Linked DNA regions of Homo sapiens: all the other regions are linked to region 1. Evidence: fine-mapped expression QTL. A gene starts in region 1. Each other region holds a variant in brackets. All regions are shown on one strand. Distances are between the middles of the regions. Region 1 holds the start of BST1 (bone marrow stromal cell antigen 1). Region 2 overlaps BST1 (bone marrow stromal cell antigen 1). Region 3 has its middle 35 kb from the start of BST1. Region 4 has its middle 10 kb from the start of CD38. Region 5 overlaps BST1 (bone marrow stromal cell antigen 1).

Region 1 (5,911 bases):
AGGGTTAATTGGACTTACAGTTCTGCATGGCTGGGGAGGCCTCAGAATCATGGCATGAGGTGAAAGGCACTTCTTACATGGCAGCGGCAAGAGAAAAATGAGGAAGAAGCAAAAGTGGAAACACCTGATAAACCCATCAGATCTTGTGAGACTTATTCACTATCACCAGAATACCAGAATAGCATGGGAAAGACCGGCCCCCATGATTCAATTACTCCCACCCTGCCTCCCCACCCCCACCCCAACCTAGCTCTCTCCCACAACACGTGGGAATTCTGGGAGATACAATTCAAGTTGAGATTTGGGTGGGGACACAGCCAAACCATATCATTCCACCCCGGCCCCTCCAAATCTCACATCCTCACATTTCAAAACCAATCATGCCTTCTCAACAGACCCTCAAAGTCTTAACTTCAACATTAGCCCAAAAGTCCACAGTTCAAAGTTTCATCTGAGACAAGGCAAATGCCTTCTGCCTATGAGCCTGTAATATCAAAAGCAAGCTAGTTACTTTCTAGATAATGATTACCTCCAGGGTAAACAAGAGGTTTACAACAAATAAAATGTCATAATGTCCCAAACAGAATAATGTCCCAAACAGAAACATCAAGAAATAGCATATAGGTATTGTATTAGTCTGTTCTTGCATTGCTATAGATACCTGAAACTGCTCATTTATAAGAAAAAGAGGTTGAATTGGCTCACAGTTCTGCAGGCTGTAGGAAGCATAGTGGCTTCTGCATCTGGAGAGGCTTCAGGAAGTTTCCAAATGTGGTGGAAGGCAAAGGGGGAGCAATGGGTCTTACACGGTGGCAGCAGGGAGCAAGAGAGAGGGAGGAGGTGCTACACACTTCTTTTTTTTTTTTTTTTGAGACAGAGTCTCACTCTGTCACCAGGCTGGAGTGCAGTGGTGAGATCTCAGCTCACTGCAACCTCCGCCTCCCAGGTTCAAGCGATTCTTCTGCCTCAGCCTCCCGAAGAGCTGGGACTACAGGTGCGTGCCACCACGCCCAGCTAATTTTTGTATTTTTAGTATAGATGGGGTTTCACCATGTTGGCCAGGATGGTCTCGATCCGTGATTCCCAACACACCCCCCACACCAGCCTCCCAAACTGCTGTGATTACAGGTGTGAGCCACGGCGCCCTGCCAGTGCTACACAGTTTAAAACAACCAGATCTCACTTACTATCATGAGAATAGCAACAAGGGGATGGTGCTAGACTATTCTTGAGAAACCCACACCCATGATAAAATCACCTCCCACCAGGCCCCACCTCCAACGTTGGGGATTACAATTTCACATTAGATTTGGTGGGACGAGCCATGCCAGGGATGCCCCAAAATTACTAAACTAAAGGGAAAAGTCAGGCTGGGAACTGCTCAGGGCAAACTTGCCTCCCATTCTATTCAAAGTCATTCAGCTGCTCACTGAGATATATGCATATTCTGATGGCCTTCTTTGGAAAGGCTTATCAGAAACTCAAAAGAAGGCAACCATTTGTCTCTCACCTACCTGAGACCTGGAAGCCCCCTCCGTGCTTCGAGTTGTCCCCGCCTCTCTGGACAGAACCAATGTACTTCTTACATATATTGATTGATATCTCATGTCTCCCTAAAATGTATAAAACCAAGCTGTGCCCTGACCACCTTGGGTACATGTCGTCAGGACTTCCTGAGGTTGTGTCATGGACACGTGTCCTCAACCTTGCTAAAATAAACTTTCTAAATTAATTGAGACCTGTCTCAAAATTTGCGGGTTCACACATGTTATTTAGAAATATGGAAGTAAACACAGGAACAAAACTTGAAAGAATTAAAAATGCTTTCCTCTGGAAAGTGGATTTAACTTAAGGAGGAACTGAACAGGAGAATGCGGGTTTTGGTTACAGAAAAAAAGAGATTCAAATAAAACAGTAGAGAACACCTGTTCTGTCCTCCCTTGTGTTTATCAAGTGCTTGCCAGGCACTCAAAGTTCATTGCTGTCATTATTGTAAGAATTGAGGACTTGGGCCTCCACGTGGTATTCTATTAATACTGGCTCTTTTTTTTTTTTTTTTTGAGACGGAGTCTCACTCTGTTGCCCAGACTGGAGTGCAGTGGCCCGATCTCGGCTCACTGCGAGCTCTGCCTCCTGGGTTCACGCCGTTTTCCCGCCTCAGCCTCCCGAGTAGCTGGGACAACAGGCGCCCGCCACCGCGCCTGGCTAATCTTTTGTATTTTTAGTAGAGACGGGGTTTCACCGTGTTAGCAAGGATGGTCTCGATCTCTTGACCTCGTGATCCACCCGCCTCGGCCTCCCAAAGTGCTGGGATTACAGGTGTGAGCCACCGCGCCCGGCCAATCCTGGCTCTCTTAAACTGAACATCTCCAGGATTTTGCATCTATCAGGAAGGGATATTGTGACCTCTGACAAGTTACAGTCGGCGGTAGGTATCCATGGAGAATTGGTTCCAGGAACCTCCTGGATACCAAAATCCACAGATGCTCAAGGCCCTTATATTAAATGGTGTAGTATACAGTATTTGCACATCCTCTTCTATAATTCACGTCATCTCCAGATTCCTTGTAATATCAAGTACTATGTAATTGTTACATAAGTAGTTGTTACATTGGATTATTTAGGGAATGATGACAAGGAAAAAAAAGTCCGTACATGTTCCGTACAGATGCAAGCATTCTTTTTTTCCTCAAATGTTTCTCATCCGTGGTTAGCTGAATTTGGATGATGAATCCGCAAATCTGGAGGGCCGAACATGCTTAACTTCCCTGAGTTTATCCATTGCTAAAGCGAGAGAAATTACAAACTTAGCTAGGAAGGGTGTTGCGGAAAGTAATTAATATTATACTTGCAAAGTGCTTGGCACGTTGTTGTGGTTATTATTTCCTGAAAACAAACAAACACCACTTATTGGTTGGTGTGAAAGAGGGCATCTGTCAAAGTTGTCGTCCTTTGGAGCCAGAAAAGTATTTCTTCTGATGATGACTGACCTCTCCTCACCTCTCCTTCAACCTTGCGGCTTCTTTGGGGCTCCCTCCCCGTGGACAGCGGTCAAGATTAGCCTGGGCCACAGTGCACTGGTCCTGTCCTGGGTGATGTTCCAAGCTCACTCTTTTTTAATTTTATTTATTTATTAATTTTTTTTTTAGACAGAGTCTCACTCTGTCGCCCAGGGCTGGAGTGCAGTGGTGCAATCACTGCTCGCTGCAGCCTCGATCCCCTGGGGTCAAGCCTCCTCACATCTCACCTCGCAGGTAGCTGAGACTACAGATGCGCACCACCAGGACCAGCTAAGTTTTGTATTTTTTTGTAGAGAGGAGGTTTCTCACCTGTATGTTACTCAGGTTTGTCTCGAACTCCTATACTCAAGCGATCCGCCCGTCTAGGCCTCTCAAAGTGCTGGGATTACAGGCATGAGCCGCCGCGCCCCGCCCCACGCTCAGTCTTGAAATTGTCTGGAACGGGAAACGGCAAACAGCGAGATATCCGAGCGAGAGTCCCGCCCTGCATCAGTTTGCGGAACCGCCTTGGTAGAAGGAGAGAAGGGGAGTGGAGGAAGCACGGGACTGGAGGGACCAAAGTTCCCCGATGGCGGCCCAGGGGTGCGCGGCATCGCGGCTGCTCCAGCTGCTGCTGCAGCTTCTGCTTCTACTGTTGCTGCTGGCGGCGGGCGGGGCGCGCGCGCGGTGGCGCGGGGAGGGCACCAGCGCACACTTGCGGGACATCTTCCTGGGCCGCTGCGCCGAGTACCGCGCACTGCTGAGTCCCGAGCAGCGGTGAGGCAGTCGGCCGGGTGGAAGGGGAGCCGGAAAGAGGCAACGGTGGGGAGGGCCTGGGGAGGGGAAAACTGGCGCTAAAGTTCGGGGTGAGGGGGCAATGAGAGAGGCCTTGAGGGGAGAGGTGAGTGTGGAGACAGCGATGGTCCTGAACGATGGGGGCGAGTGAGGAGGGGGCTGTGAAGTGTGTCTGCAGGTGAGGGGTGCGCTGTGCGGGGTCTAGAGATGAGTGTGTGTGTGTGCGCGCACACACACACTGTAGAGGTGAGGGGTGTGTGCGTGTGTTCTAGAGGTGAGGGGGGTGTGTGTGTGCGCGCGCTCTAGAGGTGGGAGGTGTGTGTGTGCTCTAGAGGTGGATGTGTGTGTGTGTGCTCTAGAGGTGGGGGTGTGTGTGTGTGTGTGTGCTCTAGAGGTGAGGGGTGTGTGTGTGTGTTCTAAAGGTGAGATGTGTGTGTGTGTTCTAGAGGTAAGGGGTGTGTGTGTTCCAGAGGTGAGGTGTCTGTATGTGTGTTCTAGAGGTGAGGGGTGTGTGCATGTGTGTTCTAGAGGTGAAGGGGGTGTGTGTGCGTGCGCTCTAGAGGTGAGGGGTGTGTGTATTCTAGAGGTGAGGGGTGTGTGTGTTCTAGAAGTGAGGGGTGTGTGTGTTCTGGAGGTGAGATGTGTGTGTGTGTGTTCTAGAGGTGAGGGGTGCGTGCATGTGTTCTAGAGGTGTGTGTGTATCTGTGTTCTAGAGGTGAGGGGTGTGTGTGTGTAGTCTAGAGGTGACAGGTGTGTGTGTGTGGTCTATAGGTGAGGGATGTGTGTGTGGTCTAGAGGTGAGGGATGTGTGTGTGGTCTAGAGGTGAGGGGTGTGTGTGTTCTAGAGGTGAGGGGGTGTATGTGTATTCTAGAGCTGAGGAGAGTGTGTGTTCTAGAGATGAGGTGTGTATGTGTGTTCTAGAGGTGAGGGGTGTGTGTGTGTTCTGGAGTTGAGGGGTGTGTGTTCTAGAGGTGAGATGTGTGTGTTCTAGAGATGATGGGTGTGTGTGTTCTAGAAGTGAGAGGTGTGTGTGTTCTAGAGGTAAGGGATGTGTGTGTGTGTGTGTTCTAGAGGTGAGTTGTGTGTGTGTTCTAGAGGTGAGATGTGTGTGTGTTTGTTCTAGAGGTGAGGGGTGTGTGTGTGTAGTCTAGAGGTGACAGGTGTGTGTGTGTGGTCTATAGGTGAGGGATGTGTGTGTGGTCTAGAGGTGAGGGATGTGTGTGTGGTCTAGAGGTGAGAGGTGTGTGTGAGTGTGAAGGAGGGTGGAGAGGTATCCCTCTAGAAGTGAGGGTGGGGTAGAGGTGAACTGGGTAACAGCCCATTGCCACCCAGCAGATGTTTAGTCTGAATACTCAGAACCCAGAATGTGATCTCAGGTTGGAATTCCTTGAGTCCAGTCCTTCCAGAATTCAAATTTCAGATCCCCTAAATCTGGAGGATTTCTGAAGTTTGGGTCTTTCTTGCCAGTGCTGCATTTCTTACTGATTTTTGTTCCTTCTGTGGCCCCCCTTTTCTTATGTTTGTGATGTCTTTCTTGTGCTGATCATTTTTATTGTCGCACATTTCAGGCAAATAAGAAACAGCAGAGAACCACCTGTGTTACACACCACCCAGTATGAGAAACAAAGTTACAAATGCTATGGGAAATATTTTTTGAAAACTAGCATGGACCTCAAGAGGGGCTTGCACTGGAGGGTGCACCTGCTTTGCCAGAGGTGGAAGCCTTTTGCAGCATTGGGCCTCCCTCCTAACACTACACATCCTGCTGGCTGGCCTGGCCTCACCTGGTCCCCGAGCTCCACACTGGAACTGGACTATGAGACTGGCCCCACCGTTAGGTCTAAATGAAGAGGCACCTGCTGTATAGTTGACTGAATTTGTCACCTCCTGCTCGGTGCCATTTCTGCTTGTCTCCGTGAGCCTGGGGCAAGGCTGTATTCCTTAGCTCTGAGAAATCTGTGCAGTGCCTTCAGAGAGACAATTCCAGTGTCAGATTTCTGAATCTGTCACCTAAGCCATGACAATTCGTTGTCTTTTTTGTAAGCCTACTTCTGCAGTTACTATATGAAAAATCTCTTGTAAAGCTCTTAGACAAATGGGCATACTTCACAACACA
Region 2 (5,911 bases), 21 kb after region 1:
AAAAAAAAATCAGTTCTTAATCCAAAACAGCTCAATAGCCAAGTGCAGTGGCATGCACCTGTAGTTCCAGCTATTTGGGAGGCTGAGGTGGGAGGATTGCTTGAGCCCAGGAGTTCAAGGGAACAGTGAGCTATGATGGTGCCACTGCACTCTAGCCTGGGTGACAGAGCAGGACCTGGTCTCAAAATAAAACAAAGTAAACCCCTAGCCATCGCCCCCTCAAAAACAAACAAACAAACAACAACAACAAAAAGCTCAATGATGGAGAAAATTGTAGCTAAAATTGTTGCATTCACAACCACTTTGCTTTGTTTTTATGTCATTGGGCTGAGTTATAATAGCCGGGCCAGAGCCCAGGTCTCCTTGCCCCTCACGGCTGCCCTGGGTCTGGGCTTATGTGCTTCCTCTCTATTGTGTCCCTACCTCAGTCAGCCTCAGGGCTCTTCTCTTCCAGGCCTGACTCAGTAAAGAAATGAGGAAGCTCCCATTTCTTTATTGCCCATAGGCTGTTTCTGTGTTAGTGTCAGGAGCAGAGAGGATATAATGAAAGGTATAAATGGGAAAGTGATGAGGGTTAACATAACAAATCCAACTCCAACCCAGATGTGAGAAACTCCTGCCCCTCACAATTCAGGTGGCATTGCCTTCTGCCCCACATCAGTAGAAAGTTCTCCCTGAGGTTCTTGCCCATTTTGGAGGGGGCTTATCTTTTCATGGCCTCCCTTACCTTCTGGTTGGTTTCTGCCAGTACTGTGTTGAATCAGACTCAGTGAAAACTCCATACCTGTTTTTGGGCATAAACAATGACAGATAACTACTTTTATTAAAAATATGTGCATCACATATACACCATGGAATACTATGCAGCCATAAAAAGGATGAGTTCATGTCCTTTGTAGGGACATGGATGAAGCTAGACACAATCATTCTGAGCAAACTATCCCAAGGACAGAAAACCAAACACCGCATGTTCTCACTCACAGGTGGGAACTGAACAATGAGAACCCTTGGACACAGGGTAGGGAATATCACACACTGGGGCCTGTCGTGGGGTAGGGGGAGGGGGGAGGGATAGCATTAGGAGACATACCTAATGTAAATGACGAGTTGACAGGTGTGGCACACCAACATGGCATGTGTATACATATGTAACAAACCTGCACGTTGTGCACATGTACCCTAGAACTTGAAGTATAATAATAAAAAATAAAAATATGTGCATCAAGTAGACACTACTGAAAGGTAGCTGAGTCAAGGACAGAAGACATGGCATGCCATAGAGACAACAATATCACGTTCCTGTTCTTCCATAGTCCCCTGCAGTGATCGTGCCACAGAGATCCTGTCTAGGCTTGCCTCCTACCTAACTCCCCGTGTGCCACCAAGACCTGGCTCCTGTCTTCATTGCTGCTTCCCTTCCCCTCCTGGTGGCTTGGAACTTCACATCTTCTCCCTCTGTTGTGCACAGCAAGTTAGCTTTCCTCTCTGATGCCTGAGCATTGGCCATCACCCATGTGGTTCAAGTCCAACCTTCTGCCCAAAGTACTTATCAGGTCATACGAGTTGTACGTGCATACAGAAATGGTTAGAAGCTCAGGCCCTAGAGTCAGCCTGCATAGTTCAAGTTCAGCCCTTCAACTTGCTACTGTGAGAACTTGGGTGGGTTATTGTGGTCAGCTTTCTCAATTGTAAATTGGAGAAGATAAAGCACCTATTCCATTTGGTTGTTATGAGGATTACATGACATGATCCTTACAAAAGATATAATCAAATGTCTTGGTACGTAGGAAGTGCTTGATAAATGCTGGCTAATATTTTCATTTGTTTTAGTTTTTCTAGATACAAGGCCTCACTCTGTTATCCAGGCTGGAGTGCAGTGGTGCGATCATAGCTCACTGCAGCCTTGAACTCCTGGGCCTCCTGCCTCAGCCTCCTGGGTAGCTGAGACTATAGGCATGAGCGTCTGCACCCAGATAATTTTTAGATTTTTTTTTTTTTTTTTTTTTGTAGAGCCAAGGTCTCGCTATGTTGCCCAGGCTGGTCTCAAACTCCTGGTCTCAAGCAGTCCTCCTGCCTCAACCTCCCAAAGTGCTGGGATTACAGGTGTAAGCCACCGTGCTGGGCCACTAATATTTTTAGAGGAAATAGTTTGTGTATTATTTGAGGTCAGAGACTACTGTATCTCCAGGACTTTTCAGGCAAGCCATAAATGGTTGATGGATGAAAGTTATTTAAATAATCCCTTAAATATTATTTTCTTTCTGTAGACCAGTGAAGCTCTTACAGTGCGTGGACCACAGCACCCATCCTGACTGTGCCTTAAAGTCGTAAGTAAATGTCTTAACCCAAATCGTTCTTTCCAAAGATAACCATCTCCTTTCAGAAGTTTTCAGTTCACAAACATGAACATATTATCAGAGGCAGATGTAAGTGTGCTCATTGGATTCTGGTTTGGCCTTATTTTTATTTATATGTATCTGTCTTAGTTTTTGTACAAAAAGCAATCACGCTACACATAACGTCCTGCTGTGAGCTTTCTTCACTTGCTGGTGTAATGGGGCCACCCTTTAAAGTTTGTTCATACTTCTGTCCTAGTCTGTTAGTGGCTGTAGAGCAATCTGTAGGATGGTCACACTACCTTTTTTTTTGGGAGGCGGGGGGCAGAGTCTCGCTCTATCGCCCAGGCTGGAGTGCAGTGGCGCAATCTCGGCTCACTGCAAGCTCCGCCTTCCGAGTTCACACCATTCTCCTGCCTCAGCCTCCCGAGTAGCTGGGACTACAGGGGCCTGCCACCACGCCCAGCTAATTTTTTTGTATTTTTTTGTAGAGACGGGGTTTCACCGTGTTAGCCAGGATGGTCTCGATCTCCTGGCCTTGTGATCCGCCTTCCTTGGCCTCCTAAAGTGCTGGGATTACAGGCGTAAGCCACCACGCCTGGCCCACACCACCTTTTATGTAATCCTTTCTGAGTCATGGGCTGGCTTGGTTGTATGTTGTTATAGTAGTTGTTTTGCTATTATAAACAATGCTGAAATATAATCCTTGATTATATACTTTAAGCTGTTGTGCAAGTATTTGTGTAGGATAGATTCCCAGAAATTGAGTTGCTGAGTCAAAGAATGTGTGTGTATTTTAAATTTTGATATGTTCTGAGAAATTTTGATATGTTTCAAAAAGGCTGTGCCAGCATACACTTCCACCACCAGTATATGCTAGGAGTGCCC[A/G]TTCTCCACTCCTCCACGCTATGTATTTTCTATATCCATATCTGTATCTGTGCCTGTACCTATAGCCTATCATTTTAGCCCATCTTAGGGGTAAAACATAGTGCATTATTGTCATTTCAGTTTGTGTGGGCAGGAAGATTTCTGATCCCTCCACTTGAATTCTTTTCCGAAATCTATTTACTAACATCATACTTATCCTGACAATCCAACTCAAGTGTTCTTTGCTCTGTGAGGCTTTCCTCATTCTCCACGTTGATTGAGGAACTCCCTTCTCTTTGCTTCCAAGGACTTTGTACACAACCTGATGACAGTGCTTTACTCTTCCTAGCCCTGCTATCGTTCATTCTGTACCATCTGCCTGCCTCACTCTGCCTTCCTCTTTGTGTTTCTCTTAGTATTTTTCATTACAGTTGCACATAGTAGGTGCACCATCTATGCCTGTAGGATCCGTTCTTCCATCTACAAGGGAAGAGAACTAATCAGAGTGCACAGTAACTATATGCTAGGCATTTGCTGTGTGCACTACATAAAATAGTATGTTTATCTGAATAACCAGTACATTAAAGAGAGTCAGGCTGGGTGTGGTGGCTCATGCCTGTAATCCCAGCACTTTGGGAGGCTGAGGCGGGTGGATCACCTGAGGTCAGGAGTTCAAGACCTGCCTGACCAACATGGTGAAACCCCATCTCTACTAAATACAAAACATTAGCCAGGAGTGGTGGTGCGTGCCTGTAACCCCAGCTACTTGGGAGGCTGAGGCAGGAGAATCACTTGAACCCAGTAGGCAGAGGTTGCAGTGAGCCGAGATTGCACCAGTGCACTCCAGCCCAGTCAACAAGTGTGAAACTCCATCTCAAAAAATAAAATAAAATAAGAGAGAGAGAGAGAGAGAGAAAGAGAGCACATGCACTGGTGAGCTGGCTTGTCATCCCCATATAGTTCTTATTCTCTTTTTCATTTAGTAATAGAACCCTTGAATTTTAGATGGTTCATGGCTATCAAGAATAATGATCCTAGCCTCTCTACCCACTGTGGCCAAGTGACATGTGCAATTTCTGGGTTTAGCACTTGAAAGGAAGGGACTTACATTCCCTTTCTCCTTTTATGCTGGCTGGTATATGGGCCCACAAGATGTGGAGGTGAGCGTCTTCAACTGGGCGTGGCAGAGTAACACAGCAAAAGGAAGCCGGGTGCCTCTGTACCATGGCATCACTCTACCAGCCCTGAAGAGTTACTGAGAGAGAAATAAACATCTGTCTTCTCTAAGCCACTGTCATTTAGACAGAAGCCAGATTTTATTTGATCCAATGTGGGTAGGTTCATATTCTCCCTTCAGAAGCAAAGAAACTCTGGCTCAGAGAAGTTTATGAAGGACTCACCCAAGACCACCCAGCTAGTGCAGGCAGAACCAGGATCTGAAGGAGTCTGAGAACTGTCAAAATTCACTCTGGCAGATGTCTTGCTCTTTGGGCTGGAAATTAGGACAACAGACCCATCATCTCCAGCATGTATTCTAGGAGCCAACATCCCAGGGTTCGGTGATGGATTTAAGTCCTCTCCTCATTCTTTAATGCTATTCGTTCCCTGTGAATTTGGCATGCATCGTTTCTGAGTCCTTTCACAGGAGGTAAAGGATAGCCTGTGAACCTGGGTCTTTCCTTTCCTCACCTGAAAATGAAGTCCACCCTCATGTCGCTGCTGCTCAAAAACCTTCAAAGTTACCTACTACCAAGTTCAGACTTCTAGTCCCATCTTCCAGGTTCATCATACTCTTTCCAGACACGTCACCCACAGCTTCTCATCTGGAATGTTTATTTCAAGGCTAGTTTTGATCCACTTCCCATAAGATATCATATGCTTTCCTGCTCATCAGCCTGTGGAAACACCGTTTTGGCAGTAGTAAGCACTCTGTTCTTACTGAGTTAGTCAGATGATCTGAAATTGTCAGTTTTCTTATCTACAAAGCCTCCATGAGGTTACCCTGATCCCTGATCTCAATATTTAAAATCATAGCCTCCATCTCACAACTGTGGCTCTTCAAAACCCTCATGTGACTGCATTTTTTTTCTTTTTTATAGTGTTTATCTTCTGACTGACCTACTTGTGAAGTGCGGTCTTTTTTTTTTTTTTTTTTTTTTTTTGAGACGAGGTCTCTCTCCTCTCTCTGTCACCCAGGCTGTAGTGCAGTGGCACAATCACGGCTCACTGCAGGTTTGACCTCCTGGGCTCACGTGATCCTCCCACCTCAGCCTCCCAAACAGCTGGGGATACAGGCACTTACCACTACGCCAGCTAACTTTTAAAGTTTTTTTTTTTTTTTTTTTGTAGAGATGAGGTCTCACTATATTGCCCATGCTGGCAAATTCATTCTTTAGCGCCTCCCACCTGTCAGAACATGAGCTCCAGGAGGTCAGGGACTTTGACCTGTTTTTTTCACTGATGATGGTATTCTAAGGACCTAAAACAGAACTTGCAACTCGGTAGACACTTAGGAATGAATGAATGGATGAATAGATGAATGAACGAATGAATGGTTGGATTCTACCCTGGAAAGGCATAGATTTAAGAAGAACGATGTTCAAAGGTGCTGGGCAGCCAGAAGGAATGACAAATGCTCTACAACACCTTCAGAGAAGTGCCCAGAGGCTGCATATGCATAAGGTCTACATTTTGATTGCAAGAAAAAG
Region 3 (5,911 bases), 36 kb after region 1:
GCAGCCCTAGCCTAGCCCTGCTTGGATGAAGTAGACCTTCCACGTGTGAATGAACTAAGTTTAATAGAGGAAAACAGAGGGTGGGGGATTCTTTAGCTTTCTTTTGTTGGAGGAGGCCAGGGAGGGTACAAGGGAAGCTTAATAACAAGGTGTGGCATGCTTTTCTGTATTTATGGCATACTTTCATAAAACACTTGAAGTGTGTGATATTGCTAGGGTGTGTGAGGGGAGCCGTGAGGGAAGATGACAAGCAGCATAAGACTTTTGGGTACTTAGAGAAAGAGAAAAGGACCCAACCAACCAACTTCCAATTCATAATTCATGGTTTGTCTCAGGACCGTCTGGCTCCTTAGGCCAATCCCATGGGAGCCCCAGCCAAGGGGCGTCTCTTAGACCAAGCTTGGAAAACACAGTGTCTGCTGCCTTCATGTTGCCTGGGTTACCAGGCGACTTAGCCACTCACAGCACAGTGACCTGCGACTCAATTAGAGAAATGCCATTTTGAGTTCCATAAGAAAAATAAGGCTTTATTTTTAAAAACTAAACATAACTTCACTTTTTTCCCGAATATAAGAGTAATAATGGCTCTTTACTTGAAAAAAATCTACACAATACAGAAAAATTAGGAAGAAGGCAAATCTCATCTGTCATACTGCACGCAGAGTAGCAGACATTTTTCTATGTGTTTTTATGCACATATTTATATTTATAGACCCAAGAGGCTATGTGGGACATTAGGAGTGCGACCCAGAGCAGAACCATACAACCGCCGGTTCTAGCCTTTGTACAAGGTAAATCATGGGTTTCAAACATATCATTGCCTCCTGACTGATCTCTCTGCTTCTGCTTGGTTTCTCCTTCAGCCTAACTTCCACAATGCTGCCAGAGCAATGTCCTACGCTAGGGTCCTGAGTGCATCGTCCTCTTGCTCAAAATCAGCAATGGTTTCCTACCCTTGGCAAGACAAATTTCAAATTTTAAAATCTGCTCTTCAAGAAGCCGGGCGCAGTGGCTCCTGCCTATAATTCCAGCACTTTGTGAGGCCAAGGTGGGCAGATCACTTGAGGTCAGGAGCCCTGGACAACATGGTGAAACCCTGTATGTACTAAAAATACAAAAATTAGCTGGGCGTGGTGGCACGTGCCTGTAATCCCAGGTACTCTGAAGGTTGAGGCAGGAGAACTGCTTGAACCAAGGACACAGAGGTTGCAGTGAGCCTAGATTGCTCCACTGCACTCCAGCCTGGGTGATAGAGTGAGACTCTGTCTCCAAAAAAAAAAAAAAATCTGCGATTCAAGATCTTTCCATTTGCCCCTAAACTGCCTTACTAGGTCTGTGTCCCAGGAGACCCCACTGCACTCTCCATGAACCTTCTCTCAGTTCCGTATTCTCAACATAAGCCTTTGGATCTGGTACCTTTGCTCACCTCCTCCTCGAAGCCTTACTTAGTTCCAGATCCATTTGTTTTTATGTCTCTCTCTCTTGAGGACAGCAACTTTACCTCTTTGTCTTTGTGTCTGTCATAATGCTTTACCCTGACCAGCCATGACCTAGTCAGCATTTGATCAGATTGGGTGAGAACCTTGGGTTTGGGGAATCAAGACAAAGGAAATGGGGAGGCAGCCTAACATTGTGGCCAAGAGCATGGACTCTGGCACCTAACAGGTTGGCCCACATCCTACCTTCAGCACTTGCTCGCTGTGTAGCCTTGGGCAACTCACTTACCTTACCTGAGCTGCATCACCGTGTGTGTAAGTAGGGATTATAAGTACTCATAATTCAATGAGCGAATGTGCATAAAGAACCCAGAACAGTGCCAGGAGTATAGTAGATCAGCCCTGTATAAGTGTTATTTGCTAGTGTTATTGTTACTACTACTAGAGTTGTTTGATAGCTGTCTAAACACCATCTGCAATACAGCACTCTCTGCAGATCAGAAGTTACTGTGCACTGGGCACTGTGTGAAGTATTTTCATAAATGGCCCCTTTCAATCCTCACTCGACCCCATAGGATCAATTCTCTTATTATCCTATTTTACAGATGAGAAAACATAGACATAGAAAGCTTTTCTTACTTGGCCAAGGTCACCTCTCTTGGCCTCGGTTCCTCCATGGTCTGGGCAGCAAGGGGGCAGCAGGGAGCCCTGGCAAAAGCAGCTAAGAAAACCAGCCTCGTGTGTCTTCAACAAACAGGTCCCAGCACCAGCTCCATGCCTGGCACACTTAATGGGTACTTAATGCTCTTCTACCAAGTGAATGAACAATGCTAAGCATTTGACCAAAAGAGAAATGCACATGGAAGACCCCTGAGCACAAGGACTGGGTGGGCACATGAAGAACTGAGTTCTCTTTCCTCTCCTGTCGTAGGTACCAGGTACCTTACACTTGGCTGTATTCCCTCTAGCACGATAGACTTGGTAACAAGGTACTTTCTGAACCTGAACAGGAAACTGTGGGAACCATGATGGGGAAGATACTGACTGTCAGAGAGTCCAAAGATGTAAATGCCTTCCACTCCCACAGCAAGGAAGCCG[A/G]AATCTCCAGAGGCTCTGGCAAGAGTTGAGTCAATTGCATGCCTGCCTAGTCCAGCTCCGTCCACATGAATGCTCTCCACAAGCTTCAGAGGAAACAGGATAAAATGGACTCCCAAATATTTAGGGTGGTGAAAATACTCTGCATGATACTAGAATTGTGGATACAGGTGATTATATATGTGTCCAAACCTACAGAAGGTACAACACCAAGGGTGAACCCTCAGGTAAACTACAGAGGCTGGGTGACCATGATGTTTCAATGTCGGTTCATTAGTTGTGACAAATGCACCACTCCACCACTCTGGTGGGGATGCTGCCAGTGGGGGAGGCTATGTATGTGTGGGGACAGAGCGTATGTGGGAAGCTCTGTACTTTCTGCTCAAATTTGCTGTGAACCTAAAACTGCTCTAAACATTAAAGCCTATTCAAAAAAATGAAAGCCTAATTTGAAAAGGAATTTCAGACACTTGGGAAAAAGAATAATGACGTCTATAAGTCATTCTTTGATAAGAGAGTCGGTCAGTCTGGTGTGTCTAGTAAGGTAGCAGAGGGACATTCACAAAGACCGGAGAATACAAAGATGTTAAACAGGGTGAGGAGTCTATGATGTTGGTCAGTATAAAAGGAGAAAAAGATCCTAAAAACATTCCTAAATATTGTTTGATTTAAAAATATATGTTGGAAGGCAAGAGAGTTTGATAAAAAAATAAAAATAAAAATAAAAAACCTTGATGGGAAGTGGGAATGACCACACGTTAGCCAGCTGATAGCTTACCTGTTTGAAGTTCAGCTTCCACACGATTGTTACAGACGGAACTGTGTTCCCTCAAATTCATAGTTCGTTATGGCCACCCTGGTAAGCTAACACAACAATGAAAATTTCCAAAGTAAAGACTAGAAGCAGGCATGTGCCAAGTGAACACTAGCTTTTTTTATTTCTCCTGCTGTGAAAATTGAGGTTTGCCAAAGGTGCCAAATGAACATGGCTGATTGAGAAGTAATCCCAGTTCCACTAACCTGAGAGACAGCCCAGGCAAGCGGACCTAGCTCCTAATGCTCATTTCCATTTCAGTCTTTCTGAAGTTTCCCAGGGTGAGAAAGTGGAACTCAGGACAATGAATCATCATTGGAGACTCTGCAGTTGCTAGAACTTAATTCACAGGCATTTGAAACCCAGAACTCAGCCTTACTCTTCTCAGGAGACTTTTGGCACCAAAGAGAAGGGCAAATTGAAAGCCCATGCTGGAGAACAGGGCACAGCTATTGCTGAGACTGGGAGCTTGTTTTTAAAGACCTGGCAAGGGTTTCAAACACCCACATGCATAACCAATGAAGCAGGTTGGAAAATCTGAACTATGCTAATTTCACCATAATTACTCATTACTTGAAGTCTTATGTATTTGTGTTTTCTTGGTAGTCTCTTTAAAACATGTTTCAATATGAAACGTATATGTATTAAATCACTCCGCTTAGAATTTTAGGAATATAGTTTTGTTTTTCCCCCTAAAAGATGTAGAATGCAGCAGGTTCTCTAAAGCACATGTATTCTTTGTTACGTGATTTGGTTCTTTGGAACTTCTTTTATCATGTAGCTATTAAAGGGTAGCTGTCAGAATTACCCAAACTCTTCACTGAAATGACTTACTTATTTGAGAAAAATGCATGTTAAGAAGCCAAACCGTGTGTGTGTGTGTGTGTGTGTGTGTGTGTGTGTGTGTGTATTTCTCCCCTGCACAAAAGTAGAAGGGTTTTCATTTGACTTGTGCCAGCTGCACCTTCATGACTTTGCTATAGGACATGTGACACAGTAACTCTAAGATGGTGCTTGTAAAATTTTAAAATAGTTAACATACAGTGACAAGCTCTCAGGGGAACACATTAAACTCGATTAAATTTTGTAGGGTAAAAAGATGTGTACAGAAATATAATCAGAGTGAAGTCATTGTTCACCATTGCTGCTAGTAATAAAATTTGGTGGTAGGAGGGGGAAGGAGAAAGGGAGGGAGGGAAGTCGGTGAGAGAGAGAAAAGGAGAGGGAGACATTGACAGAGAGAGAGACAGACAGACAGAGAAACAGAGAGAGACAGAGAAAGAGAGGGAAGAAGGGAGAGAGAGAGAGATAAGGATAGAGAGAGACAGGGAGAGAGTGTATCTCCTGATCCTCACTGGCTGATAACTAAATTAGTTGGGGGCAGGGGGGACTGAATCTCGTTCTGTCACCGAGGCTGGAGTGCAGTGGCACCGTCTCGTCTCACTGCAACGTCTGCCTCCCAGGTTCAAGTGATTCTCATGCCTCGGCCTCCCTAGCAGCTGGGACTACAGGCACACGCCACTATGCCTGGCTAATTTTTTGTATTCTTTTTGCTAGAGACGGGGTTTTGCCATGTTGACCAGGCTGGTCTCAAACTTCTAACCACAGTGATCTGCCCGCCTTGGGTTCCCAAAGTGCTAGGATTATAGGCATGAGCCACCATGTCGGGCCTAAATTAGTAGTTATTATCTACTTTCATTTGTGGGATGAAGATGAAACAGAGTCCTTTGGGATTGTGCACTGGGGGAAACCTAACATAGTCTAGTATCGGGAGAGGAGGCTTTCCAGAGAAAGTCTTCCTTAAGTTGAACCTGAAAAAACGAGAGCTATTAGCCAGATGAGAGGTGAAGGTGTGAGGGGGTGGATTGGAAATATTTTCAGGTAGGGAGACTAATCTATACAAAGGTTTATGTTCTCAACTACTGAGTTTGTCTTCAGCATTTGCACCTTATTTAACAAATTTATTAATTTGTTAAATTATAACAAATATTTGACAGCAGAGCTGAGGATATTAAAATAAAATGTAATTTTATTTCTTATATGTTGGTGAAGAAGGAGCAGCAACAGAGGCTGGAGCATTATTTACAAGCCAAACTATCCGTCTGGAGATTCCCAGTGCAGCAACTGGGACGGGGACTACTGAATCCCTCAGATTTTAGGCCATAGGCCAATGAACATTTTCTGTAAAAGGTGAAGTAATACTTTTAGCTTTGCTGGCCATGCAACCTCTGTCGCAACTACTCAACTCCGTGGTTCGTGAGGGGTCCACAGGGTTCATTATCCGTCATGAACCGCAGAGTTGAGTAGTTGTGACAGAGGTTGCATATATTTACTCAGCCAATATTTACTGATGATATTGATTAGGAGTCTTGGGAAGAGCAGTGACAGTTTTTTTGGTATTATATCTAGCGACAAAAGATTGAATTTGGCCGTTACTCACTCCTCCTCCAACAAAGTTGTCAAACGGGGCTGCTACAGACAAGTAGAATCACAGATTGGAGATCAGCTGTCATTATGTAACAGCTGGATTGGCAGGCTTCCCTCTAGGGGCCATCCCTGTCTACAG
Region 4 (5,911 bases), 66 kb after region 1:
AAGTTAACCTTTGTGGAGCATGGCACGGTGTTTGTCTCAACATTTTCACTTGGATACATAACTGGCATCTTAAACTTGACATACCTCCAATGAATTCTCCTTTCATAGTCTTTCTCCACTTGGTAAACGACAACTCCATCCTTCCAGTTGCTCAAGCCAAAAATCTTGGAGTTGTCTCTGACTACTCTCATTGTCTCTTTACTCTATCGGCAAATCCGGTCTGTTGTACCTTTAAAATATATTCAGAATTTAATTGCATCTGCTGATGCCAACCCAGTGCAAGGCACCATCATCTCTTGTCAGGATTATGGCACCATGGCTTCCAAAATGGCCTCGTTGCTTCTGTCCCTGCCCCACTTCCGTTTCTGCTCAACAAACAGCCAGAGTGAGCCTGACAAAACACGTCGGGACATGTCACTCTTGTGCACCAGCGCCTGCCTATCTCCGGGTCCCAAACACACAATTAAATCTCTATCCTCATCTCCCACATATTTCCTCCTTGTTCTTCCTGTGCCATGCACCTGTTACTTGACCTCTGCTGTTCTCTGAACACACCAGGCTTGCTTCTGCCTTAGGGCCTTTGCAATTGCTCTTCTCTGTCTGGAGCCCTGTTCCCCCAGATTTCACCTCACCTTCTTCAGATTCTTACCCAAGTGCCACCTTCTGAGTGAGACCTTCCTTGGTCCTTTACCCAAAATTGCAACCTTCCCCCAAGTCTTTATCCTGTTCCCTGCTGAGTTTGTTTCTTAGCCCTCATCATCACCTCGCATGTGCTATGGTTTACTTATCTTGTCTATTATATGTCGATTCCCCTTTAAAACATAAGCTTCTGGCAACCGAATTTGTTTAACAGCTATAAACCCAGTACTAAAATAGTTCATGGTGCTCAGTAAATATTTAATGCACAAATGGCTGAATAAGGGGATGGAAGTCAAAAGAATTGCATTACAGTGTGATACTCATCAACATACAGTTGTGCAGTGCCCTCTAAGCACCAGGGACTTGCTAGCCACTGAGGACGTACCTGAGACAAAGACTGTTTGGCATCCTTCTATAATCTAGTTGGGGATGGAGGTAGGGTGGCAAAACTGTCCCAAAAAATCAGGAAGTATAGGATGCATATGGTTATCCATGATACGAGCTTGTAATCCAGACATGAAGGCCTGTAAAAGATGTCTCAGATTTGGAGTGTCTAAACTGTCACCTGAAGGTTAAGGAAAAACAACTGGATGAGGGAGGTGGGGCAGTGGGAGAGCTGAAAAGTCACCAGATCTGTTAAGCTGCGGTCAGACCTAAGGGAGGATGTGGCTGAGAAGCTGACTTTTGATGAACTCCTGTCTTTACTCTGATGAAATAAACAAGGAAGCCTAGAATGAAGGGCAGGCAGCCCAAGTGAATTAAAAGCATTTTGAGGCATCTTGCCAAGTTCTATTTACTCTTATTTCATTAAAAATACAGAAAGAGTAGTAAATACAAGATTCAGCCTTGCTCGGTTTCAGGATGTGGGAGGAGAAATCATGCAGCTGTCTTACATGAATCTGCTAGAAAGAAGCAGGTCACAGGTGTGATCTGTGTGGCATCAACGAGCATGCTTTTCTGTTGTTTTTGACATTCAGCATTTATCTATTCTTCTTTTCGTGATGGTATCCTGACTTGAGGAGGCACAAAACATATTGAGGAGACAAAGACCTCCCTAAAAAAAAAAAAAAAAAAAAAAGACCTCCCTAAAAAAAAAACAGGTTAACCCTGAGCTTCCTGGTGACACTCAAAGCCTTCTGACCAGAAGAAGTGTGAAGAAAAGGGGAGAACAATCCCTGGACCAACCAATGCCCACACGTTGCTGCATCCCACGCCCAGTGCCCATGTCCCACTGCCGTTGCCAGCATGCCCAAGAGAACAGCTGAAGGGGATGCTATAGTAGATAAGGCCAAGGTGAAGCATGAACCACATAGTAGATCTGCAAGTTGTCTGCTAACCCTGCCCCTCCAAAGCCAGAGCCGAAGCCTAAAAAGACCCCTGCAAAGAAGGGAGAGAAAGTACCCAAAGGGAAAAGTTGACGCTGGCAAGGAGCGGATAACCCTGCAGAAAATGGATATGCCCGAACAGACGTGGCACACAGAAAGCCAAAGGTGCTGGGGGTGCCGAGGGAAATGTGTGCATTTTTGAAAATTGTGTACTTCTGGTGGCTGCACAGTTTGAAATACTACTTTTTATCAATTTTTTTTTTTTTGAGATGGAGTCTTGCTCTGTCACCAGGCTGGAGTGTAATGGTGTGATCTCAGCTCACTGCAAACTCCACCTCTCGGGTTCAAGACATTCTCCTGCCTCAGCCTCCTGAGTAGCTGGGACTACAGGCACGTGCCGCCACACCCAGCTAATTTTTTGTATTTTTAGTAGAGACAGGGTTTCACCATGTTGGCCAGGATGGTCTCGATCTCCTGACCTTGTGATCTGCCCGT[T/C]TCGGCTTTCCAAAGTGCTGGGGTTACAAGCGTGAGCCACCGTGCCCGGCCCTACTTTTTTTTTTTTAATCAAGTTTTATAAAAATCAGAATTTTGTTTTACTCTTTTTAAAGCTATGTTGTTAGCACACAGAACACTTTATTGTTTTTTTGGGGAAGGGGCATACGTCACTAATAGAATGTCTCTGAAGCTGGATTGATGTGGGGAAAACACTTTTCCCTTCTAGTTTTTAATTTTTTTTTTATTTTTAGTAGAGATGGAATTTCACCATGTTGGCCAGGCTGGTCTCGAACTCCTGACCTCAAGTGATCTGCCCATCTCGGCCTCCTCAAGTGTTGAGATTACAGGCATAAGCCACCATGCTCAGCCCCCTTGTAGTTTTGAAAGACTTCCTCTTGGCTCCCAGGAGGAGGGATTCCCTGACTTTGACCACATGGTCACCTTGGCACAAAAGCTTTGTGGTATGGAAAAACAAAATCATTCATTTTTAAATCCTCTTCTTCCTTTCTACCTTTCAGCACAGACTTAACTCCCTTAAATCCAGACACCTGTTGGGACCTGACCCCCAATAATTGGTTACCAGTGTGTTAGGCAATCTGGACTTTCCAGTGATGCCACTGAGATGCTGCCCCTCCAAAGAGCAGCGGTTCCGATTCTAGACTGTGGATCTTCAGATAACCCTGACTTTCAGGAAGTGAAATAAAAATGGCAGAATTTAAAGTTGTTAAACAATGCGCTAAATGTGAAATGTCAACCCTCACTCTAAACTTTCCCTGTTTAGAGCATCAGTCGAAAGCTTCATGGGTTTTAGAGTGGCTTTCTGATTTTTGGTAGTCCATGGAAGAAGAGAGTTTGAAAGTTGTTGTATACTGTTAATGATTGTCTGCCCATGTCCTGCTGAAATACCATGAGTGTTGATGGACAGTATCTTTTTTTTTTTTTTTTTTTTTTTTGAGACGGAGTCTCACTCTGTCACCCAGGCCGGACTGCGGACTGCAGTGGCGCAATCTCGGCTCACTGCAAGCTCCGCTTCCCGGGTTCACGCCATTCTCCTGCCTCAGCCTCCCGAGTAGCTGGGACTACAGGCGCCCGCCACCGCGCCCGGCTAATTTTTTTTTGTATTTTTAGTAGAGATGGGGTTTCACCTCGTTAGCCAGGATGGTCTCGATCTCCTGACCTCATGATCCACCCGCCTCAGCCTCCCAAAGTGCTGGGATTACAGGCGTGAGCCACCGCGCCCGGCCGATGGACAGTATCTTTAATAAAACTGAATACAGTTTGGCTTGGGGAAAAAAAAGCCCTCCTGACAGCTGCCACAGACCCGTACCCAAGAGCATGTTTCCAGAAGTTCCCACTATGGGGCATAAATCCCCTTTGAGAACAGACTGAGTCTGTCAACTGTAAGCCTTTATTTTCACATTTACAATATGAAAATCATCACATGTTTACATGATGGCAGTGTTGTGAGGGTACAGTTCACAAAGGACCTGACACTCAACGATGTTAGCAATTATTGTTGAAAGAAAAAAAAAAACAAGAATTATGTATGAATTCCAGCATCTCCCTTTTCTCCCTTCAACATTGTGCCTTATTTCTCAGCAAATGAGCCAACAGATGCTTGTTGATAGATGGTTTTAGCCGGTGAATCCGATGAAGACCTTGGATCTGTTGGTGAATGTCCAGCCTGTTGTCACTGAGTTTGAACTGTGGGAGAAGGAGCTGCTTATTCTGCAGGCGTTGCTTGAGTGCCAACCACATACTGGGCATGGTTCTGGTGCTAGGGACAGAGAACTTGGTATTTCTGGTGAACAAAGGCAGGCAACGGCCCTGTTGGCATGGAGCTGCCCTTCTAGTGGGGGAACTGAAGAGAGGAGGCTCCCCCATTTCTAGAAGCTTTCCCAGGGAAATTGGCTGCTTTTTGCTTGACATGTACACTCACATGTTCTTGCAGCAAGCCTGAGCCACAGGGAGTTACATGAGATGCTCAGGCTCAAAGAGCTAGTGGGGGTGGAGAGCTGGTATTGGAGTCTGGGCTCTGGTGGTTTGGGAGAGGACATATGGCCTGGAAGGAGCCACGTATACACAGTGAAGCAGAAAGAACAGAATTTCTCTCTCTCTATATATATATGTATATATATGTTTACAATATCAAATAATATTTTTTAATCATTTTTAAAGCTAACAAAGATTAGGGGAAAAAAAGGCAAGATACTACCAAAATGTTAGTGGTAGTTGGGCTACGAGTGGGAGCATTTTTCTTCTTTGCTCTATTTCCACTTTTAAAATGTAGTTTTTTGTTTTTTTTTTAAAGACAATCTCCCTCTGTCGCCCAGGCTGGAGTGCAGTGGCACGATTTCAGTTCACTGCAACTTCCACCACCTAGGCTCAAGTGATTCTCCTGCTTCAGCCTCCTGAGTAGCTGTGATTACAGGTGTGTGCCACTGCGCCTGGCTAACTTTTGTATTTTCAGTAGAGACGTGGTTTCACCATGTTGGCCAGGCTGGTCTCGAACTCTTGACCTCAAGTGATCCGCCCACCTTGGCCTCCCAAAGTGCTGGGATTACAGGCGTAAGCCACCGGGCATGGCTAAAATGTGATTTTTTTTTTTACTTGAATGATTTTAAAATGACTAATGAAGTTGACCAAAGAAAGAAGAACATGTGTGCTTTTTATTCTAGAACCAATGTTTCTACTAACCAGCTGTGTGGCCTGGAGATAGTCATGCCTCTTGTCCCCAGGTGTCCCCAAATCTGTTGTTCTCCCCGCCGTTCTGTTTATATGCTGTTCCCTCCTTTTTGCAAACCTTGCTTGCCCTTCAACAGCCTGCTGTGGTGTCACTGTCTTTTCAAAGGCTTCCTAAAAACTACTCCGGGCCAGGTGTGGTGGCTCACGTCTGTAATCCCAGAACTTTGGGAGGCCGAGGCGGGTGGATCACCTGAGGTCAGGAGTTCATGACCAGCCTGGGCAACATGGTGAAGCCCCGTCTCTACTAAAAATACAAAAATTAGCTGGGCACAGTGGCACGTGCCTCCCAGCTACTCGGGAGGCTGAGGCAGGAGAATCGCTTGAGCCCGGGAGGCAGAGGTTGCGGTGAGCCGAGATTGCATCATTGCACTCCAGCCTGGGCAACAGAGTGAGACTCCGTCTCAAAACAAACAAACAAATAAACAAACACCACTCCGATTCCTTCTGATTCCCCCTGTTTGCTACATCACCACTGCAATATTAATGCTTATTTGTTGACTACTTGCTAGGGGCCAGACATTCAGCTCTGTTCCCTATACACATTACCTGATTCAACTCTCAAAAGAATTCAATGACGGCCACAGATATTTTTCAGCCTGTTCGACAGATGAGAAACTTGTCCTTCAGAGAAGCTTTACTATTTGCCCAAATAGCAAAGCCCACCCAGGTCTACCTGACCACCAAGTGCTCTTAAGTGCTGGGCTATA
Region 5 (5,911 bases), 29 kb after region 1:
TCTATCCTAAATGCCCCAGGCCACAGAGACAGGACTACTCATCTCTACTTGTTTAGGAATAGTGGGGTAAAGGGCTTTTAATCTGCAAAGGTTTCAAATGAAATAAACAACTGTTGATGTAAATCCACCCATTTTATTAATAGTTTTGTGGTAAATTTAGGGACAATCTGTATGTTTTGGTATTTAATTATTGGCAATATTTTAGAGAATGTAGCATATAAGAACAGCTGTTGGATTAAACCTGTGATGCCAGTATATGGGTTACTATTAAGTAACTAATTCTTTTTCTTTTTTTTTTTTTTTTTTTGGAGACAGGTTATCGCTCTGTCACCCAGGCATGGAGTGCAGTGGTGTGATCATGGCATATTGTAACCTCAACCTCCTGGGTTCAAGTGATCCTCCTGCCTCATCCTTTCAAGTGGCTGAGACTACAGGAGCAAGCCAGCACTACTGGAAAATTTTCTTTTCCCTTCCTTCCTTCCTTTTTTTTTTTTTTTTTTTGATGGAGTCTTGCTCTGTCACCCAGGCTAGAGTTCAGTGGCTTGATCTTGGCTCATCACTGCAGCCTCCACCTCCTGGGCTCAAGTGATTCTCCTGCCTCAGCCTGCCAAGTAGCTGGGCCCACAGGTGTGAGCTACCACGCCTGGCTGATTTTTGTATTTTTAGTGGAGATGAAGTTTTACCATGTTGGCCAGGCTGGTCTCAAACTCCTGACTTCAGGTGATCCTTCTGCCTTGGCCTCCCAAAGTGCTGGGATTATAGGTGTGAACCACCATGCTCAGCCAAGTAACTGATTTTAGGCTTGGGATTTTTAGTAGGAAGTTATAAGAGAATTTTACTAAGTTTTGAACCAGTATTGGAATTTGTAAAAGAATTAAGATTAAATTTTATACATTTATTAGGTTTACTACAATCAAGTAATTGAGAAAGTTTTGCTAATTTAAAGTCATTTAAAATATTTTTTAAAAAAGATGTAATATTTTAATATTTAAGTTGAAAATAACCTGAAGCCTTGCCCAGTGGCTCATGCCTGTAACCGTAGCACTTTGGGAGTTCAGTGCGGGAGGATCACTTGAACCCAGGCATTCAAGACCAGCCTAGGCAACATGGCGAGACCCCGCCTCTACAAGCAAACAAACAAAAAATTGGCTGGGTATGTTGGTGTGCACCTATGGTCCCAGCTACTCAGGAGTCTGAGGCAGGAGGATTCTCTAAACCCGGGAAGGTCAATGCTTCAACGAGCTGTAGTCATGCCACTGCACTCCAGCCTGGGTGACAGAATGAGACCCTGTCTCAAAGAATAATAATAATAATAATAACTTAACCTGAAATAACTTGAGTTTAAAACATCACAGGAATTAAGTAAGTGTGACAAATCCTTAAGAGTTATTGTCAGAGTTCACCAGGTTTTTAAATAGAACAATGTGATTTATAAATTAAATAAAAGGGCATGGGAAAATTAGGCTTTTGAGTATATAAATGTAATAACAAGAATCAATTTTAAAAATCAAAGTAACTGCAAATAGTGCAGTTACCCCCTCAAGTATAGTCTCACATTGACAAGAAAAGGTTTTTAAGCTACAAAGTGAGAAACCAATGCACAGAACATGAACCGAGACATGTAAACCAGAAGAAAGCAAAACAGCATGTTTCTATTTGTGCATGATAATGGATGTAAGTGATAGAAATAGGTCTGAGAAAGTAAACTCCAAGCACCTAACTGTGGGTTCCTTCTAGGCAAAGGAATAGAAACTGGAAAAAGATGAAGGGAGGCTGTCATTATTAGTGTATCTAATTATGTGTTATTTTATTTTTTAAAAAAGTAAAGAAAAATGTAACCTTATGTTAATTAGTTAATTATTTGAAAGCAAAAGTAATTTTAAATTTTGAGTGAATCGAGTCTGGGACATTAACTGCATCACAGGTGCAATTGTAGAAAATGTCCGGTAGGTGGAGCACTAATACAAACCTGTGGGTCAGATTTCTTTAGCAAAAAAGAGAGGACCAGCATTCAAATGGAGTCAGGAACTTTTAAGGACAGGGCCACTAGTCCAGAGCCATGGGATATATTTCCAAGCCAACATTAGATGGTTTCATAATTTTAAAATTCATCTTTTAGTTGGTTTAAAAGAATTCAGTAATTTCTGTTTTTACAAACCCAGTGGCCAGATACTGTTTACTATGAATAGGGTCCATATTTTGGGCAGGCCCTCTGTTGATGTCTTCATGTCAGGACAGGTTTTTCTTCACCACTTAAACTCTGATCATGTAATAGCCATCAGTAGGAAACCTGGCTAACACTGTGTTCCATCCGTACAATAAGAATTCATCCACAAGGAAGAATGAGTTAACTCCCTGTGTACCAATATGGAAGCATGTTCAAAATATGATGTTAGGTGAAGAACGCACGTTGCAGATTCCATTTGTGCTTAGATAAAAGGATATCTAAAGACATCTAAGGATAATTTGCAGGGCAGCAGCAGGTCCTGTTGTCTAGAGAAGCTTTTTGCTCAGGAAAGAATGTCTTGAGATGGTATTTCAATGACGTGTGTGCTCAGGATTGCAGAAATAGGAATTAGTTATATTGAGCAGGTTCAGCATGCATGTGTTCATTGCATTCCTGGAAAGAGAACTCAAACTATCAAAGTTGGTTTTCTATGGAAAGTGCAAATGGGGAGACTAAGAGACTTTTACTTTCCACTTTATAACTTCCTATATACTATGTACATTTCTCCACAGTGTGCACAATTTGCTTTTTTTTTTTTTATACTGGTAGCAGTAGAATTTATTCAAATGTGCCTTAATATAGGCACTGGGGCTTGCCTATGGTGCTCTCGATATATAAGGCCCGGACATTCTGCCAGTTTTTCTGCCAGTTTTTCTTGAGCAATGTCACCAAGAAGTTGACAGGCAGGTGACTGTTACACACAAGCTCATTGTCTGTCCTTTTCACGTGGCCAACAGCCACAGCCAGACATAACACCTTCTTCATGTGGAAATTGATTACGGACTTCATCTCATCCACTTTGGCCACCATGTTTTCCTTGTGTGTGAGCAGGGAGGGGCAATTTCCTGCCTTATTTAGGACTGGGCCGAGGATTCGTGGGATCTGCTTGATCAGAGACTCTGAGGCCAAAAATGCATCATACTCTTGGCCAGTTTCTTGACCAGTTTCTTATTCTTGTTGAGTTTTTTCAGTACCTCGTTTTCCATGTGGTGGAAATCCACAGGCTTGGCCTTGTCACGGTGCTGCTGGTTACCCAGGACACACATGGAGAACTTGGGGCAGGGAGTGGACTTAAGCCTGACGGTGCCCGAGAAGCGCTTGTCCTTCTGGGGAGTCATAGTTCTTGAAGCTGATCTGCAACTCCACCATCTCCAGAAACTTGGGGTGCTTGCGCTGGTTTCGGTGCAGGACTTCGCGCACCGCCTCCTACGGGGTGTCACGGGAGACTTTGCTGCTCATGGCTTCTCGCTCCGCGCTAACCAGAAAAGAGACTAATACTGCACATATATTTTTGAGCGTAGATTCCATACACCAATACTGACACTTTCTCTATTTCCTTGTTAATTTGCAGGGCAGCAGCCGCTACTCAAAGAAAAGCCCCAAGTCTTTATACAGAACAAAGGGCGGGTCTTATCATTCCCCTCTTTCTGGTGCTGGCTTCC[A/C]GGACTCAACTGTAACTGGAAACTGTGTTGCTCTAACCCTCCTCCAGCCCTGCAGCCTCCCCTTGCAGTCATCATTCGTGTTCTGTGTATACCAAATGATTCTGTTATCTAAAGAAGCTTTTTGCTGGGAAAACGATGTCCTGAAAATGGTATTTCAATGAGGCATATGTTCAGGATTTCAGAAACAAGAAGTTAGTTCTATTTAGCAGGTTAAAAAATGCTGCATTAGAATTAAAGCAAGTTATTTTCTTATTTGTATAATGACACAAAGCATTGGGAGTCAGACTGCTTGTATATTATCAAACATTTTAAGAGAATTCTAATAAAGCTGTATTTTACATCATCTATATTTTCCTATATCTCCAGCAGCACGGACACTGCATGCTTGTTGATTGCTTAAGACATATGTATACTATATAAATGTATGCATATATGGTCTGCAAAGTTTTCATTTTTCATTTATTTGGTATAAAGATGTTCAGTTAATGGTTCCTTTTTGTTTTGAGAGACAGAGTTTCGCTCCTTTGCCCAGGCTGGAGTGAGGTGGGGAGATCTCAGCTCACTGCAACCTCTGCTTCCAGGATTCAAGCGATTCTCCTGCCTCAGCCTCCCAAGTAGCTGGGATTGCAGGTGCCTGCCACCATGTCCAGCTAATTTTTGTATTTTTAGTAGAGATGGGGTTTCACCATGTTGGCCAGGCTAGTCTCGAATTCCTGACCTCAGGTGATCCACCCACCTCAGCCTCCCAAAGTGCTAGGATTACAGGCGTGAGCCACCACATCCAGCCATAATAGTTACTTATAATGAGGGAAAAACCCAAAATATCCAGTAATATTTACATATTTACTGAAACTGTTTGGAACTTGTATTAGTTTGTTCTTGCATTGCTATAAAGAACTGCCCGAGACTGGGTAATTTACAAAAATAAAAATAAAAAAGAGGTTTAATTGACTCACAGTTCTGTGTCCAGAATTGTGACAAAATTGTGACAACCTCTGGGTTTTTGGTCTTGCTGACTTCAAGAATGAAGCCATGGACTTTTGCAGTGAGTGTTACAGCTCTTAAAGATGGTGTGTTCAGAGTTTGTTCCTTCAGATGTGTCTGGAGTTTCTTCCTTCTGGTGGGTTCGTGGTCTCGCTGACTTCAAGAATGAAGCTGCGGACCTTCGCGGCAAGTGTTACAGCTATTAAAGGTAGTGCGGACCCAAAGAGTGAGCAGCAGCAAGATTTATTGTGAAGAGCGAAAAAACAAAGCTTCCACAATGTGGAAGGGGACCCAAGCTGGTTGCCACTGCTGGCTCGGTGGCCAGCTTTTATTCCCTTATTTGGTCCCACCCACATCCTGCTGATTGGTCCATTTTACAGAGCGCTGATTGGTCCATTTTACAGAGTGCTGATTGATGCATTTACAATCCTTTAGCTAGACACAGAGTGCTGATTGGTGTGTTTACTATCCTTTAGCCGGACACAGAGTGCTGACTGGTGTGTTTTTACAGAGTGCTGACTGGTGCATTTACAATCCTTTAGCTAGACACAGAGTGCTGATTGGTGCGTTTACAATCCTTTAGCTGGACACAGAGTGCTGACTGGTGTGTTTTTACAGAGTGCTGACTGGTGCATTTACAATCCTTTAGCTAGACACAGAGTGCTGATCGGTGCATTTACAATCCTTTAGCTAGACAGAAAAGCTCTCCAAGTCCCCTCTCGACCTAGGAAGTCCAGCTGGCTTCACCTCTCTGTTCCACAGGCTTACAGGAAGCATGGCTGGGGAGGCCTCAGGAAACTTACGATCATCATGGAAGGCAAAAGGGAAGCAGTCATGTCTTACATGGCCAGAGAAGGAGGAAGGGAGTGAAGGGGGAGGTGCTACATGCTTTCAAACCACCAGATCTCGTGAGAACTCTGTCATGAGACAGCACTAGGTGATGGTGCTAAACCATCCGAAACCACCTCCGTGATCCAATCACCTCCCACCAGACCCCACCTTCAACACTGGGGATCACAATTCAATATGAAATTTAGGTGGGGATACAGAGCCAAACCATATCAGAACTATTTACATGGGTTTTAGAATATTTGTAGAATGGAGTATCATTCAACAAGTAAAAGCCATGTTTACCAATTCACATGTCCTTCAGATGGTGAAGGAATAAACTAACTGGTAAATCTACACCATGGAATACTACTCAGCAATAAAGGTAACTACCTTGATATATGCAGCAATATGGATGAAACCCAAATGT

Evidence for each region.
Region 2: its variant is fine-mapped to the expression of BST1 in whole blood (TOPMed, PIP above 0.99).
Region 3: its variant is fine-mapped to the expression of BST1 in whole blood (TOPMed, PIP above 0.99).
Region 4: its variant is fine-mapped to the expression of BST1 in whole blood (INTERVAL, PIP 0.96).
Region 5: its variant is fine-mapped to the expression of BST1 in whole blood (TOPMed, PIP 0.98).

What each region holds. Positions count from the first base shown.
Region 1 is chr4:15,699,557-15,705,467 of GRCh38, forward strand. It overlaps BST1 (bone marrow stromal cell antigen 1), which reads left to right and starts at 3,509. Exons shown (of 9, transcript NM_004334.3): 1 at 3,509-3,776. The coding sequence starts at 3,589. RefSeq lists a silencer at 3,448-3,527.
Region 2 is chr4:15,720,608-15,726,518 of GRCh38, forward strand. BST1 (bone marrow stromal cell antigen 1) reads left to right here. Exons shown (of 9, transcript NM_004334.3): 8 at 2,268-2,327. Among named protein-coding and RNA genes, the nearest start is that of BST1, 20 kb to the left of the region's middle. The variant A/G (reference allele first, on the strand shown) is at 3,225.
Region 3 is chr4:15,735,341-15,741,251 of GRCh38, forward strand. It overlaps a transcript of BST1 not described here. Among named protein-coding and RNA genes, the nearest start is that of BST1, 35 kb to the left of the region's middle. The variant A/G (reference allele first, on the strand shown) is at 2,535.
Region 4 is chr4:15,765,093-15,771,003 of GRCh38, forward strand. It overlaps a transcript of BST1 not described here. Among named protein-coding and RNA genes, the nearest start is that of CD38, 10 kb to the right of the region's middle. The variant T/C (reference allele first, on the strand shown) is at 2,460.
Region 5 is chr4:15,728,162-15,734,072 of GRCh38, forward strand. BST1 (bone marrow stromal cell antigen 1) reads left to right here. Exons shown (of 9, transcript NM_004334.3): 9 at 3,579-4,626. The coding sequence ends at 3,684. It also overlaps the pseudogene RPL10AP7. Among named protein-coding and RNA genes, the nearest start is that of BST1, 28 kb to the left of the region's middle. The variant A/C (reference allele first, on the strand shown) is at 3,670.